Linked DNA regions of Homo sapiens: region 1 is linked to region 2. A link means that fine-mapping ties the variant in region 2 to the expression of a gene that starts in the linked region. Tissue or cell type: whole blood. Region 2 holds a variant in brackets; the other region holds the start of a gene. All regions are shown on one strand. Distances are between the middles of the regions.

Evidence for each region. PIP is the estimated chance that this variant, and not a neighbour inherited with it, causes the effect.
Region 1: it holds the start of TRIM41, and the variant in region 2 is fine-mapped to the expression of TRIM41 in whole blood (INTERVAL, PIP above 0.99).

The regions. Positions count from the first base shown.
Region 1 is chr5:181,219,959-181,228,132 of GRCh38, forward strand. It overlaps TRIM41 (tripartite motif containing 41), which reads left to right and starts at 3,323. Exons shown (of 6, transcript NM_033549.5): 1 at 3,323-4,854. The coding sequence starts at 4,042. It overlaps TRK-CTT2-3 (tRNA-Lys (anticodon CTT) 2-3), which reads right to left and starts at 2,093; the gene lies at 2,021-2,093. TRV-CAC1-5 (tRNA-Val (anticodon CAC) 1-5) reads right to left here and starts at 2,509; the gene lies at 2,437-2,509. MIR4638 (microRNA 4638) reads right to left here and starts at 2,675; the gene lies at 2,608-2,675. RefSeq lists silencers at 1,902-2,111, 2,362-2,591, 3,862-4,071 and enhancers at 3,322-3,551, 4,219-5,216.
Region 2 is chr5:181,192,010-181,200,475 of GRCh38, forward strand. TRIM7 (tripartite motif containing 7) reads right to left here. Exons shown (of 7, transcript NM_203293.3): 3 at 7,842-8,072; 4 at 7,086-7,108; 5 at 6,681-6,796; 6 at 6,174-6,209; 7 at 1,915-3,668. The coding sequence ends at 3,157. It overlaps TRIM7-AS2 (TRIM7 antisense RNA 2), which reads left to right. Exons shown (of 2, transcript NR_183285.1): 1 at 1-131; 2 at 2,225-4,872. It overlaps TRIM7-AS1 (TRIM7 antisense RNA 1), which reads left to right and starts at 8,066. Exons shown (of 2, transcript XR_001743050.3): 1 at 8,066-8,466. RefSeq lists a silencer at 1-227. The variant C/T (reference allele first, on the strand shown) is at 3,606.

The DNA.
Region 1 (8,174 bases), 28 kb after region 2:
GAACTACCCAAATCTATCGCCGCTGCAAGCCTTGCATCCCGCTCCTTCACCTGCGTCTCCCTCTGGCTGCCGCCTCACCCGGCGCCGGCCGCCTCCTGTATGGACCAGGCCTGTGTCCTTCCAGCCCCTGTCTCCGACAGTCTTACTCCCCCTCATACTCCCTGTTTGCATCACTCCTGAAGGAACCCCCTGAAATATAAATCAGAGTGAGTCCCTCAGTCTCCCCAGGCCCCATCACCACAGGGTTTGGGAGGAGGCCAAAGATCCCACCAGGTTCATGTGTGTGTCGTGCTTCTCCGACTGTTGAACGCTTGCCGCCTTTGTGCCCGGAGCAGCTTGGGTCACTTGCCTGGAGGGGCATCCCAAACCTGACCTGGCCAGAGCGGCGACGGGTGGAAGGGGTGGAGAGGAGAGAAAGCAGGAATTGTAGCAAAAAGCTCCAGCGGGCGTTCCCTTGGCTTGCTAGAGGACAAAGAAGAGAAGCCTGTCCACTTCATCTCCACTTTAATGAAAAAGCCAGAATCCTTTAAGAATGTTTTCCAGTCCCAGTGAAGGTGGTAAAAAATAACCCTGAAATCACAGTCTGCAAAAGAATCCGAAATAATTTGTGCAAGACGAAATGTCAAACTTAAAACTCTTTGAACACCAGCTTTGAACACCAGTAACTCATGTGCTAGGATTGTACTAGCGACTCTGCCTATTTACAAACGTTGACCAACTTCTGCCCAGACCGCCCTCACAGACTATATAGCCCTCATAAGTCCCCGCTTTGATTTACGTCTGAGACAGAAGACGATGCTATCTTTTGCTCAGCGAGATTAAGCCAGCTTTCTATGATCAACAGACTTCTCTCGTGGTGTGGTGCGTATGCGGAGGAGACTTCGACAGCTTAAAAATACAAAACGGGGCCAGGCGCGGTGGCTCACGCCTGTCATCCCAGCACTTTGGGAGGCTGAGGCAGGAGGATCACGAGGTCAGGAGATCGAGACCGTCCTGCCAACATGGTGAAACCCCGTTTCTACTAAATACAAAAAATTAGCCGGGCGTGGTGGCGCGCCTGTAGTCTCAGCTATTCGGGAGGCTGAGGCAGGGGAATCACTTGAACCCGGGAGGCGGAGGTCGTAGTGAGCCGAGGTGGTGCCACTGCACTTCAGCCTGGAAACAGAGCAAGACTCCATCTTAAAAAAAAAAAAAAAAAAAGAAAGAAAGAAAGAGAAGAAAAAAAGAAAAAAGGCCTATATTTGCAGGACTAATTTCGAGGCCATCCTGGGCTCAAGCGATCCTCCCGCCTTGGCTTACCCAAAGTATTGGGATTACAGGCATAAGCCACCGCGGCGCATGGCCCGTTTTTATCTCTATTTATGTATGGGGGAAACGTGGAGGCTGGTATTTGTGGGGCAACATCTCACAAAAATAGACTCTTAAAGTCAAGAGCATAAAAAAGAATATACGGAAGACAAGTGTCTCATATGACACAAAGCATCTTTCTTGACAGGGAGTCGAAAGCAGGTCGTAGCGAGACAAAGGCGGAAGCCTAACCACTAAATCTCCCAGTAAAGTGGGAGTGAATCAGATAGGTTTTGACGCTCACGAACGCCTGGGGTCGTCCTGCGGTCTCACCCCAGTTTCGATAAACCACATTGTTCCCTCCAGCACAGCAAGTCTCACAGCAAGACGGGGGCAGGCCGTCTGGTAAACATAAAATGCCTAATATGTGCTGCCCGTGGGCGAGTGGCCTACAGCAAAGGGTCATGCATGCACGATAGCCCGCGGTGCTGGCCTGCAGGAATTGGTCCACAGGTACCCGCCTCTCATTCTTTCTTTGAGAGTTAGCGAGGGTGCAAACGTTGTGAGAATTCTGCTCGGGGCCTTCCACACACGGATCGGAGAACACCAGGTTAGTCCAAGTTCTAACACCCACTGTTGGTGAATCTGCTACCCACTAGGTCTTGGTACAGAGAATACCATTTGTGCACTTAGGTAACACAACTTGCCTTAACCTTTCCAAAAAGCGAAATTACGCCCAACGTGGGGCTCGAACCCACGACCCTGAGATTAAGAGTCTCATGCTCTACCGACTGAGCTAGCCGGGCGGCCATGTCTGTATTCTAACTTTGTCTCTGAAGATGGAGGTTACCCTCAGAGGTGTAAGCACGTTTCCACTGTGCAAATACTAAGAAGCGCCTGCGCCTGGCTCTGTTCTAGGCACTAGAGCCGAGGATCTGAAATCTACGGATTCCTGTACATGTGATGGCTGCATAGGCTTCAGAAGGGAAGAGCAAGAGATTAGGTGAGGGGCGAGACCTGAATTTACTTGAGTAGTGCTCTCCTTCAGTTTTGCCCCAGTCCGTGTTCCTCCGAAGCGCAGGGACACACATGTCCTTCCTGCCACGTAAGGCCGGCCTCGGGAGAGAATCTCCCGAACAGACCAAAACGTGTTTCCGCCCGGTTTCGAACCGGGGACCTTTCGCGTGTGAGGCGAACGTGATAACCACTACACTACGGAAACCACCTTGGCTACTTTCCTGCCGGCATCGTCCTGAAGACACACACGGCTGAGACGGCCGGGATAGCTCTAGGCAAGCGCCCTTGTAGGACAGGCCCGGGGACCCCTGCCGCGGCCGGCTGAGCGGTGTCCAGGTTCTGGAGCCGGACTTGTCCACCGCAGCCGAGTCCGCAGGTCCTGTAATGGCCTAGCATAGTTCACCCACGAGGGTTCGTGGTTTTTGGCGCGTTTGATCTGACATACTCAGAGGCCTGACCACCCCCCTAGGAAGCGCGACGTCCATCTGGAGTTTTCCCGCGAGCCGCCTTGAGAGCAGGGTAAGTTCTGCAGGCCCAGCCCTGGCGTCACGCTGTGTCTGGCACTCACTGGAGATTCTGTACATAAATCATGGCCCCGTCATTTTTCTCGCATCAAACAACATTTATTTATTTATGTATCGACATCAAATCTCTATAAAAATAAAATTTAAAGAGCTATTTAAGCATCAAGTATTATTTCTACCGCACAAAGCATCTATTTTTGCAGAGATGCTGTGAGAATGTAGATGTAATGATTCGTCACCACTTCTTCACTGCTGGGCAGTTAGGGAAGTTCATCTAAACCATGAGACAGTGTCCGGTTGGCAGTTTCTACCTCGGATGCGAAACGCCGACTACAGTTGGGGAAGGGTGGGGCGTCTGCTGCCCTAACCCGCGAAGCGCTTTCTCAGGCCCCGCCCCCGGTCCGACCCGGACGACCCTCTGAGTCCTCCACAACGAAGTCGTCTGCCTAGAAGGGCCGGAAGTACTTCAGGGCGCGCCGCGGACCCACCCCCTCGCTTCCGGCATCGGCTGTGGGGAGTACCGGCTGCAGTCGGCTGTGCCGGGAGGGTAGGATGGCGTCTGGCCGATGCGGTGATAGCACCGAAAGCAGACGGCCGCCAGGCGCTCCCCCTACCCCCCGAAGTTTCTCCCCAGCGGCGGGGGATGGGGGTAGGCGGTTCCTCTGTTCTTTCTGCGTTCCCCGCGGCCTCTTACCACAGAGACGCGGGCCTCCACCGTCCTAGCCCTCCCGCCCTGTTCTCTAGTGCGGACTAGAGCGTCTCCTCGCCATTTCCTGTCGCCCTGGGGCCCCGCGGGGAAAAAGGGGGAGTAGCAGGACAGCGGAGGGAAGTCGCGAGCTTAGGTGGTGTGTAGACGCCGGAAGTGTTGGGAAGGAGGCCGGAAGCTAGGGGCGGGGCCAGGAAGTGAGGAGGGGCGGGGGTTTATGAGGAGTCCAAGGGAGCATTGGGGCAGACTTGTACTCAGAGCCACCTGAGGGACTTGGCGGTGGCGCCCAGCACTGTCCCCTCCCCTCGTAGAGACACGGTTGTCGTTTGGGAGTAGGGAACACTGTGTTGGGGTGGGTTGTCGGCAGGACATCTCTCTGGCTGCTCTTGGGGCGAGGTGTGGAGGGGCAGGGCTGGGGGTGGAGCCGGGTCGCCAGGGCGTCGGTAGGGAAGACCCCCGCCCCTCGCCCCCCCACCGAACCTCTACACTGGCTGGCTGGACACTAAGATGGCTGCCGTTGCCATGACACCCAACCCTGTGCAGACCCTTCAGGAGGAGGCGGTGTGCGCCATCTGCCTCGATTACTTCACGGACCCCGTGTCCATCGGCTGCGGGCACAACTTCTGCCGAGTTTGTGTAACCCAGTTGTGGGGTGGGGAGGATGAGGAGGACAGAGATGAGTTAGATCGGGAGGAGGAGGAGGAGGACGGAGAGGAGGAGGAAGTGGAGGCTGTGGGGGCTGGCGCGGGGTGGGACACCCCCATGCGGGATGAAGACTACGAGGGTGACATGGAGGAGGAGGTCGAGGAGGAAGAAGAGGGTGTGTTCTGGACCAGTGGCATGAGCAGGTCCAGCTGGGACAACATGGACTATGTGTGGGAGGAGGAGGACGAGGAGGAAGACCTGGACTACTACTTGGGGGACATGGAGGAGGAGGACCTGAGGGGGGAGGATGAGGAGGACGAGGAGGAAGTGCTGGAGGAGGTTGAGGAAGAGGATCTAGACCCCGTCACCCCACTGCCCCCGCCTCCAGCCCCTCGGAGGTGCTTCACATGCCCTCAGTGCCGAAAGAGCTTTCCTCGGCGGAGCTTCCGCCCCAACCTGCAGCTGGCCAATATGGTCCAGGTGATTCGGCAGATGCACCCAACCCCTGGTCGAGGGAGCCGCGTGACCGATCAGGGCATCTGTCCCAAACACCAAGAAGCCCTGAAGCTCTTCTGCGAGGTAGACGAAGAGGCCATCTGTGTGGTGTGCCGAGAATCCAGGAGCCACAAACAGCACAGCGTGGTGCCATTGGAGGAGGTGGTGCAGGAGTACAAGGTGAGAGAAGTACAGAGAGAAGATGGGAGTTTAGTGGGGGGATGGAGAGGAAGTAAGGGGACCTGGGAAAAGGAAACATCTCTTCACCCACCAAAGAACCTCATGGTATTGGTGAGCCAAGTTTGCTTATCTAAGCACTTACTGCCACCAAGGTGGATTAGAATGAGAAGGATTCTGTACACAGAGCAGATGCAGTGAAGACGACCAGGGAAGGATGGCTTCCTCAAAGCAAATAGAGCAAAGCCGGTGATGCCAGATCAGGTCTCTAGGGCTTTACCAGAAGTCTCGTTTTCTTTCGGGTGAGTCTTAAGTCTGTCCTTGACGGAGACACCTAGAGATGGAAAGAACTGGGGGCTTCAAAGGACAAGAAAAGGCTCAGAAGCAGGAACACAGAGATAACTGCTAGTGTCAGTGTCAGACCCAAATGCTCTGCACTTGCCTCCCAGTGGGTTCCCCACCTACCACGATATGGCTTGGTTCTGTCTTCAAGGACTTTGGTTGGCTCTGTGTCATTCTTATGCACTGACTAGAAAGCAGGAGCTTTTCAGTCAGAAGACCTGGCTCTGCAAGTTGCATTGTCAAATCTTGATTAAGTCTGTGAGTGTCTTTGGACTTTAATTTGTCCAGGATTGATAGTTAATATTCACTGGACATTTATATGTATACCAGGCACTGTACTAGGCACTTTTCATGGACTGTCTCGTTAAAACCCAGACAACACTGAGTTTGATATGTTTTCCATTCCCATTTTATAGATTGGGAAACAAAGTCAGAGAGGCTTTAAGTACCATACAGAGGGCCACAGAGCTTCAGTAATAATTGACTTAGTTATTTACTGTCCCTTCCCCTGGTGTATACTAACAACGCCACCACCATTTGGATGTCTGTTGTTTGACTTTTCTGATGTGACTTTCTTGGAGTCTGATTCTAGTTTGACAAATACCTTGCCCCTACTTCTCATTTTGACTCTTCTTTGGACATAGGTAAAGGAGATTTGTTTGCAAGGCAGCCAGCACAAATAGCACTACTTAGTGAAGGCCTGGATGGGTTTGAAGCAGTGGGACCAGGAGGAGGAGGGGGTAGCCTCTGTGTGGTCTGCACAGAGCTTTTTTTGTTTTATAACTCATGTTTTCAGACCTTCTCCTGATTCCTGCTATAACTTCATTTAGGTATTATTTTCGTTACCCCAATTTTAGAGTAATGTGTCTAGGGTTTCTCAGCTCTGAGTGGTACAGCTAGACATACCTACATTACCTCATCACAAGTAACAATTTCTTTTACAGAGTGGCCTTTTTTTTTTTTAATTTTTTGAGACGGAGTCTCACTCTATTGCCCAGGCTGAAGTGCAGTAGCATGATCTCGGCTCACTGCAGCCTTCACCTCCCGGGTTCAAGTGATTCTCCTGCTTCAGCCTCCTGAGTATCTGGGATTACAGGCACTCGCCACCACAGCTGGCTGATTTTTGTATTTTTAGTAGAGATGGGGTTTCACCGTGTTGGCCAGGCTGTTCTGAAATTCCTGACCTCAGGTGATCCGCCTGTTTTGGCCTCCCAAAGTGCTGGGATTACAGACATGAGCCACTGTGCCTGGCTACACAAAGATTGTTAAACCTGCCTGATTGTTGGAATTACTAGGGGAGGTTTTCAAAAATACAGTGGATCCTACCACTAGAGTTTCTGAATCAGTGAGTAGGAGAATATCTTTAAAAAGCCCAGTCTAGCATGGGGATCACTGCATTGGTAACATTGCCTAGCTGTTAGTCCCTGCATTTTTAGCAGAGATTGTGAGGTCCTGTTGTCCTTTCCATCTCCTCAGTTCCTAGTTAACCATACCCATCATATCATGTGTGGTCACTTTGTGAACAGGAACCCAGGCCAAACTATCCATGGGCATTCCACCCTTTCTCTTTCACCTCCCCCTGTAGGACTGCTCCAAGGAGCTTCTGAAACTGGATTTTAATTTGCATTAGCCAAATTTGTTCAATGCCAGCTGCCTGAAATCCCGTATTAGGTCCTGAAGTAGGTGAGGAATTAAAAAAAGTCATAATCTCTTTTCTTTTCCCCCCTTTTTTTTTTTTTGAGACAGAATTTCACTCTTGTTGCCCAGGCTGGAGTGCAATGGCACAATCTTGGCTCACCGCAACCTCTGCCTCGGATTCAAGCGATTCTCCTGCCTCAGCCTCCCGAGTAGCTGGGATTACAGGCATGTGCCACCACACCTGGCTAATTTTTTGTATTTTTAGTAGAGACGGGATTTCTCCATGTTGGTCAGACTGATCTCGAACGCCTGACCTCAGGTGATCCGCCCAACTTGGCCTCCCAAAGTGCTAGGATTGCAGGCGTGAACCACTGCGCCTGGCCATACTCTCTTTTCTTGATCTGTTTACTGCGCTCTGCAGTTTGGGAGGCCATATACACATATTTAATCTGACATTAAGTGATGAGTAAATGTAAATACATAGTTTTATTGTATAGGACTAATTTGAGTGATTCCCTTTCTGACTTAATAGGCTATTTTACAAGTGGGTCATTTATTTTTTTATTTTTATTTTTTTTGAGATGGAGTCTCGCTCTGTCGCCCAGGCTGGAGTCCAGTGGCGTGTTCTCGGCTCACTGCAAGCTCCGCATCCCAGGTTCACGCCATTCTCCTGCCTCAGCCTCCCAGGTAGCTGGGACTACAGGCGACTGCCACCACGCCTGGCTAATTTTTTTGTATTTTTAGTAGAGACAGGATTTCACCATGTTAGCCAGGATGGTATCGATCTCCTGACCTTCTGATTTGCCCGTCTCGGCCTCCCAAAGTGCTGGGATTACAGGCGTGAGCACCGCGCCCAGCCACAAGTGGGTCATTTATTCTTTTCAGATATGTACATGCAGTAACCAGTAGCTTGGCAAAATGTTTTGTAAAAATTTTTTTTGTTGAATAGGTAATAACACACAAATGATATGTAAATATAGTTCCTGAACAGTTACATGTTTGTTTTGTTTTTTTTGAGACAGGGTCTCACTCTGGCCAGGCTAGAATGCAGTAGCATGATCATAGCTCACTGCAGCCTTGACCTTCTGGGTTCAGGTGATCCTGAGTAGTAGCTGGGACTGGAGGTGTGTGCCATCATGCCCAGCTAATTTTTTTTTTTTTTTTTTCGTGGAGACAGGGTCTTGCTGTGTTGCTCAGGCTGGTCTTGAACCACTGGCCTCAAGCAATCTTCCCATTTTGGCCCCTCAAAGTGCTGGGATTACTGTGTCTGCCCGACAGTTAAATGTTTTGAAAGTTGGCCGGGCATGGTGGCGGGTGCCTGTAGTCCCAGCTACTCGGGAGGC
Region 2 (8,466 bases):
CCGAGCTGTGAGGACCGCCCCGGGCCTTGGGCGGGGCGGGGGCCAGGGAAGGGCGTGCGCAGGATTGGGGAGCACGTTTTGCGTCTTGCTGTGCGTGAGGAAGCGGGGATCCAGGTCAAGGCTATGGAAAGGTCAGGGAAGGGTGTCAGTGCGCCCGTCCTGCAGGGAGTCCAGATCCGAGAGGTTAGGGCGGGACCTGGGGCGAGCTGGGCGGTGGGGGAACAGTGGGGTCATCAGGAGGTGGAGGCCCAGCGGGAGTGTGGCGGGGGAGGCGGGGAATCAGGAGGGCCAGGTGTTTGGAGGCGCTGGGGTGGGAAGGGTCCAGGCGAGGTTGCGGGTGGGTGCCAGCCCCGTCTCACATTTGGATGAAGTAGGAAAAGGCAGCTTTTAGGGTACACCCTGACATGTTCTGTCAGGGCCCTTAAAGGGCCCACGGGCCGGAGGAGAGGGGAAAAGGATGAGGGCTCAGCCTGGCAAAGGACAGAAAGTGGTGGGTGTAGGAGGTGGACCTTGGTCTGGTGGCCTAGCCTGCCCTGTGCTCCCTGCAATGCCGGGTGACTTGGGTCACTGGGCGGCCAGGCCAGAGGTGGGCCTCTAGGTGCCCCCCATTCTGGATGCTGAGGGTCCCTGTGAGGGTCTGGCGGCAGAGGCCTGCGCTTATGGGTCAGCAGCTAGGACTGATGGGTTGAATAAGAAGGGCCCAAGTTAGGCCAGTTGTTCTCACAGACCCAGAGGTCCCTAGAGTTTATGATGCCCAGAGTCTAGGAGAGGGAAATGCACACACATGCCCTCGAGGACACCAGCATCCTGACATCCAAGTTACTGTACTGCCCTGGTTAGCAAGAAAGAACATCTGTTCCCTTCTCTATGCAATTGTTACAGTAACTGTTGTTACATTTCTTAAGATACATAGCTATATATGTAGTCACTCTGCAAACACACACACTCTGATAGACACACGATTGCACTCATGGACACAAAAACGGAAAATAAACATGCGGACAGCTACTCCCAGTCCCCAGACCTGACCCTCATGTGACACCTTCACCAGACATGGTACTTTCTGGGACCTGTAATGTGTGTTGTGATGCCCAGCACATTTGTTGGATGGTACAAAGGGAATTATGATACTTAATCAAAAAGCCATACAAGCCAGATAACATTAAGGCTTAACGGTAACAATAGGTGATTCAGTTAGGAAATTAATGTTAGAGATCGGTTTTCCTTGTGGAAATCAGTGGTATTCAAATGCCTGAATTGGCTACCCGGTTTTAGAGCTGCTCTCCATGTATGAGCAGGACATAGGATTCACTCTCTGGAATGCTTCTGTAGGCAGGACTTTGAAATGACCCTGTCCTCAGCCTGGAGGATGCGGTATTCTGATTGTCTGGTGCTGTGTCAACTGGGCCTGCCTCTGGGATAGTGTTGTGGCTGCCCCACGAGAACCCTATATGCCAGGTGAGCTTGAAGCACCTCAGAGACAGAGCACTGAAGCTCCATGACACAGGGCTATTCAGCTATCATTGCCCCTGTTTGCCAGCACCTCTGTCTAAATAACTTGTGTGGGACAGAATTAGGTCCGAGTCTGGTATTCTGTTCATCTAGCCTGGTAGCCAGGTAGTGAGAGAAGAAACCTGTGGCCCTTGTCTAAATATGAGGTGGTCAGTATTTAACAACAAATCAACAATAGGGTATGACCAGACTGACTTGGGTCTGTTTGCAACACCTGAACCTTATGCACATGCTCATAAATGCCCTCTCCAAAATACACACACACACCCCCAAGAAAGGTGAGATACAAATACACACTCCTCCCACACAGAAACATGCATGCTCATTCACTCTGGCAGAAACCCTGATCACACTTACGCTCCTGCACTCAGATCTAGGGAGTAGAAAATGGGCCAAGCCAACTCCAAAGACAGCTCATAGTTTCATTTTCATCTCCTCACCCCCTTCCCAGGGGAGCGCTGAGCAGGGAGTAGCCCACTGCCACCCTTCCAGAAGCCCAGCTACCCAGAAGCTGGAGAACAAGTAGACAAGGGGCTGAGGCTGGCCAGGGGAATGCCCTCCAGGGCATGGGCTGAGAAGGCCTTGGCACCAGGGTGCTCTGCTGTTGGCATTTTCCTGAGTCCGTCAGGAGCATATTTGTGCTCTGTGTGTTGTTTAGAGCTGGCTGCATCTTTAAAATTGTAAGTGCCAACTTGTGTTTTGTGTTTCAAAGTTCCAGAAGCAAAAACAAAAAAAGTTCGGGTACAGCGGCTCACACCTGTAATCCCAGCTCTTAGGGAGATGGAAACTGGAGGATCACTTGAGGCCAGGAGTTCAAGACCAGCCTGGGCAACATAGCAAGACCCAGTCTCTTAAAAGAAAATTAAAAAGAAAGAGTAAATAAAGTTCCAGAAGCTTTGCTCTCCTTATCCAAGCAGCGTTTGTACTTTGGCACTGGAAAGTGCGGGAGTCAGGGGTTTGTGAGAGCACGTGTTGGTTGTCGCATTGGTCAGGATGCACCCATCACTCTGTATCCTCCGGCTAAGGAGTGCTGGAGAGCCGTGATGCCCACTGGCTGTTGTCCCGGGCTTGTCACTCAAAGACGGGACAGATGTCTCCTTCCAGTTCTGGCCCAGACTGTCCTCTGAGCTGGGAGCACAGGGCTCCTCCCTGAGTAGATGACCTGTCAGGTCAGCTGGATCCAGAGGTCCCACAACCTCTCAAGGCAGAGCTGGCAGCTGTCCAGAAGGCAGCAGCCATGATAACAAACGTGGTTGGCCCAGGCCCAGACCTGCCCCCTGGCAACAGAGAACAGCAGGACTGGCTTTGACATTGTTTTAGGGAGCCAGGCACCCTTCCCAGTCAGGGCAGAAGCCCCCTGGAGAGCTGGGCTCCTGACCTCACCGGCCTCCACCTCCTGAAGGCTCTGGCCAAATCCACATGTGACCTCAGGAAGGGAACACCCTCAGGAGTCCAAAGCCCCTGTTCCCCTGCTCGGTTGGCCACAGTCACTCTCCTGCCTCGGGGTTGTGTCTGTAGCAGGCTCTCTTGGGCAGCAGGGGTCAGGAGCACGGAGGGCAGACCCAAGACGGACCAGGCATCTCTGGGGAGGCGACATCCCCTCCCACCGGCAGCCCAGAGACAGGAGCTCCCCAGCAGTGCCCCTCAAGGCCAGATTCGCAAGTAGGTGCCCGTGGAGCAAACAGAGAAAAGCGGGAACACGCGCTCCTGGAAGTTGACGCGGAAGGTGTAGAGGTGGCGCATGTCCTCCACAGCGTAGAAGGACACGGCTCCCACCTCCAGGTCCAGGGCCACCCGCACGCGCGACAGGTGCCCGCAGCTGAGGGGCGACCGCTCGGGGCTGGTCACGGCCCAGTACTGGCCGCCGTTGAGCTGCAGGGCCCAGACGCCCTCCTCGGGAGTGAAGGGCGTCAGGCCCTTTCGGCGCACGCTCTCGCGGGCCACGCCAAAGGCCCAGCCGTCCTTAGAGCCCACCTCCACCTCCCAGTGATGCCGGCCCGAGGAGAAGCCGCAGGACGCCAGGACGCGGGTGTTGGTGTCGAAGCGGCAGGGGTGGTTGGGCAGGTCCTGGGCCCGCTCGCCGAGGCGCACGC[C/T]CTTAAGATCCAGAGAGAGGATGAGGCGCGGGTTGGCCGTGTCGGGATCCAAGGTGAGCTCCACTGCAGACAGAGACAGGGAGAAATGTCCCCACGCAGCCAGGCCCCTGGCACAGTCTTTGCAGGGCCGCGCCCGACCTTGCTTTGCAACCTGCCTGCCTTTCCCTCTAGAATCCCCCCAGCACCCAGCGCCAAGGCCCAACCAACCCCCACGCTCTGCCTCCCAGAGATTTTGCTTCCCCCCGCCCCGACCACTCAACAAGTACTTACTGAAATCAAACAAATGCAATGTGTGGGCCTGGTTTGAACCCCAATTCAACAGATGGGGATATTTGAATGCTAGACATTGGAAAGAATCATTAATCTGTCCAGGTGTGAGGACTGCTTTGTGGTTATGTTTTACAAAGTCTGTTTCTTTAGAGATAACACACTGAGGTATTTATGGCAATGATATGTTGTCTCTGATGCTTTAAAATAATACAGTAGGCCAGGCGCAGTGGCTCACGCCAGTAATTCCAGCACTTTGGGAGGCCAAGGTGTGTGGATCACGAGGTCGGGAAATCAAGAACATCCTGGCTAACATGGTGAAACCCCGTCTCTACTAAAAATAAAAAAATAAAATAAATTAGCCGGGCGTGGTGGCGGGCGCCTGTAGTCCCAGCTACTCGGGAGGCTGAGGCAGGAGAATGGCATGAACCCGGGAGGTGGAGATTGCAGTGAGCTGAGATCACGCCACTGCACTCCAGCCTGGGCGACAGAGCAAGACTCTGTCTCAAAAATAAAAATAATAATAACAATAATACAGTGGAGGCCGGGTGAGATGGTGCACAGCTGCGATACCAGCACTTTGGGAGGCCAAGGCCAATGGGTCACATGAGGTCAGAAGTTTGGGACCAGCTTGGGCAACATGGCGGAAAACTTGTTTTGTATTTTCTCTACTAAAAATACAAAAATTAGCCCGGCATGGTGTCCTGTGCCTGTAATTCCAGCTGTTTGGGAGGCTGAGGCATGAGAATCGCTTGAACCCAGGAGGCAGAGGTTGCAGTGAGCAGAGATCAGGCCACTGTACTCCATGATCTCACTCCAGAGTAAGACCCTGTCTCAGAAAACAAAATAATCCCACAGGAAGTGGATAGCAGTGTCTATGAAAACTGTGGCCACTAATTGATCACTGCGGACGGTGAGAGATGGGTATGTAACATTCTTTACACTCTTCTCTCTACTTTTGAGTATGTTTGAAATTTTTCATAATAAAAAGTTAAGGCCAGGTGTAGAGGCTCATGCTTGTAATCCTAGCACTTTGGGAAGCAGAGGTGGGAAGACAGCTTGAGCCCAGGTGTTGGAGACCAGCCTGGGCAATATAGCGAGACATCCGTCTCCACAAAACATAGAAAATTTAGCCAGGCATGGTAGTGTGCTCCTGTAGTCCCAGCTACTCGAGGACGCCCAGGAGAGAGGATCGCTTGAGCTTGCGGGGTGGAGGCTGCAGTTCCACTGCACTCCACCCTGGGCAACAAAGCGATACCTTGTCTCCAAAAAAAAAAAAAAAAGTTAAAATATGTACACTTACTGTGAGCACTACTACGATTGAGGCCCTGGGGGTACCACAGAGTATCAGAGTAGTCCTGCCTGCCTGCAGCTTCCTTCCCACAGGGAGAGGATTGAGGATAGATTATAAACAGAAGATGAGAGGGACCAGAAGAGCAGGCTGTAACTTCAACCAGAGTGGCCAGGGAAGACCCTCACTGAAAAGGGGCATCGAGCAGACAGATATAAAGAAGGCAAAGAAGCAGGCCACAGGACTGGCTGGGGAAAGCATGCTCCAGGTAGGGGCCTGGGGTGGGGGAGCCTGGCAGTGCAAAGGCCCCGGGATGGGTGTGTGCTTGGTACACTGAAGGAACAGCAGGGAGGATGTGTAGCTGCGTGGAGTAGAAGGGGTGTGCAGTGAGGCTAGAGCCCGTGGGCCCTTGAGACCTCCATGGGGACTCTGACCTTTACCAAGTCAGAGGGGCTGTGGCAGGGCTCTGAGCAGAGGAGGGCCTGGTCTCACTCAGGTGTTTTAGGTGGCACCCAGACACACTCTGACTTAGCTCAGACATCAGCATCAGGAATATGTGCCCTCCCCTCCCCTCCTCTGGGTGTTGGATGCCACACATTCCAGAGCTTTGCAAGAGTAAAAACGATATTCCTTCCAGTCTTTAGCTTCCCCTTGCTTTCCTGGTCCCCTGTATACACCCCATTCCCAGGAGAGGTTTCCATCCATCTTGGAGTGGGGACCGGGTAGAGGCTCACCCAGGTGGCCGAGAAGCCTTTCCCAGTCTGAGTATCTCGAGGTACAGGGCATTCCTGCTCCTAACCAACCTGCAGCATTTGGGCCAACATCTGAGGGTGTCAGAGCTCCCAGGATGGGGAGGGGGTGGTGTGGGGGAGGGGACAGAGGAACAGGGTTGCTGAGGTGGGTGGGCTGAAGGAACCGACCATATGCAAAACCCTGAGATGGTCACGAGCAGGGAGTAGGATCTCTGTGTGGCAGACAGTCCATACTCGCCATCACAGCACCATCCCTACCTTTCTCCTCTTTCTCCAGCTCTCCCCGAAGGTCCTCTGAGGAGGAGAAACAAAGCAAGGCGTGCATGAGCGACACGGGAGATTATATGGCAAGGTCACCAGCTCTTTATATCCCAACTGACTCATTCATTCCCCAGAGACTCCTAAGGCCAAGAGTGAACGTGCAGGCACAGGGCCAAGCATGGGGAGCGGGGGGCAGGGGGCCCATACCCAAGCATTCTAGCTCTACCCAAGTGGCTCTGAGCTGAGCTCCCCTGCACAGCTCTCTTCCTAACCCCAGTCCCCCAGCAGTACCCCTCTACCCCATCTGTGCCCATGAGAAGCGGCATGCCCTGCGGGGGCCTGACTAGATTTGCCACCACAGCCCCTACACCAATCTGGCCATGGCACAGCCAGCTCCTATTTTCACACACAGCTTCTGGAAAGCACACCCAGGGACCCCTGAGCTACCAGGAACCCTCCACCACCACCGCACTATGTGGCCCAGCTTGGCGCCCAGGCCCCTACCTTTGAACTTCTTCAGCATCCCTTTTAAGACAAAGGTCTTGAGAGAAACATTCCAGACTTTATTCTTCATCTCAGAAGAGACTGTGGTTGGCTTGGGGCCAGGCACATTGCTACACCTGCAGGACAAGGGCTCTGAGAAGGGCCTGTGTGCACCATTTTGCTCCCACAGGCTGTGACAATTAGGATGGCGAGGTCCTCTTGGCAGAAAGAGGTAGAAAAGGGAGAGCCAGACCTCATGCAGAAAAACCCATGGCCAGGCAGGTGGGCGTTTGTCTCGGAAGGTCCCCAGGCAAGCAAGTCGGGGGATCAGGAGGTGAGAGGTCAGGGGACAGGGAATAAAGACAAGGCTCAGTGAAAAGGGAAGAAGCAACTTAGAGAGGCCCCAGGAGCTGTGAGGTCACTCACCTGCTCAGCGTGCTTTTGAATTCCTGGAAGGAAAGATAGAGGAAACCAAATCAGCATCAGGTAACCTCCATTCACCTCTGAGAAACAAAGCTTGCCCCTTGCTGTGCCTCCCAGATGTAAGCATAAGCAAGTGTGCCACGCCTCACTGCCTGCGTGGGCCTCAGGGGCAGCAGCTTCCAGTGGCTGCTGGCTGCAGGGTGTCTCACCCACGCAGTGGACCTCTCACCCTTTGCCACAACTCTTCACGTGCTTTCTTTCTATCTTTGCTGCTTTCTTAGTTACAGAATCATCACTGGAGCTATCCCATGGGACCCAGTGCTGCGTGTGTCCTGGAAACCACCTGAGGGAGGTCACAGCCCTTATGCACCTACTGCTCACTCAGCCCCATAATGACTGTTCTTAACCCATCTATGGATTGTGAAGTTTATCTAGTTGTTTATAACTTTTTTTTTAGCGAAATAGAATAGAAAACATCAAAGTGCATACGTGTAGCAAAGGTGAGTATTATTTTCTGAGACTTTTGTCTCAAGCTTGTGATTCTGAAATACGATATATATTATTGTGGCTCATAGTCAAGAAAGTTTTCACATCTCTCTAGACCTCCAACCCCAGGAAAATCAGGGCACTTCTCTCCAGTCCCCTTCAGCTCCAGATCATGTGATTCTCCTAGACCCCCCAGGACTGACACTGTTCTCTAGCTGCTGGTCCTGATGCCTTAGGATAAATGACTCGAGCCCCTGGCTGAGCCAGACTTACCTGGAGAAAGTCAAGGTCAGGCTTTTGAGCTGTCTCCTGGATCTGGCTGCTGAGCTTGGACAGCTGGGTGATCTCAACCCCGAGCTGGGCCAGGTTCTCATTCTGCTTCTGTGCCACCTCCCGGGACAGTTCCTCCAGGCGGCCTAGCAGCCGACCCTCCTGCTCCACCAGGAAAGCCCTCAGTGCCTGGAACTCTGCCCCCACCTTCTCCTGCTCCGCTGCCATCTGTTTCTGTCCCAGGAGGAGAAGTTGGAGAGGGACTTGAACATGGAGACATAACATTTGGCCAGTGGCCTGAGTCATCCCACAGGGCAAGGCTTCGTCCCTGTCACTGCTGGAGGATCGGAGACACACCCACCTACGCACGCAGTGCGTGCTCTATTGTCAGTGTCCCAGCTCTGAACAAGCTGTAGTCTGGACACATGCTCTTTTCTCCCCTGCCACAGATGCACCCACACATGTCTGTGGACCTGTGCTCCATCACCTAAACCAAGGCAGCTTCATACTCCCCCCAGAACTACGCCAAGCTGCAGCTTCCTCACTTGAAAAGCAGAAGGGATAAATTAGTGCCTCCTGGGGCAACCATAGGATTAAACTGAGATTGCTTTTTCTTCCTCAAGCACAT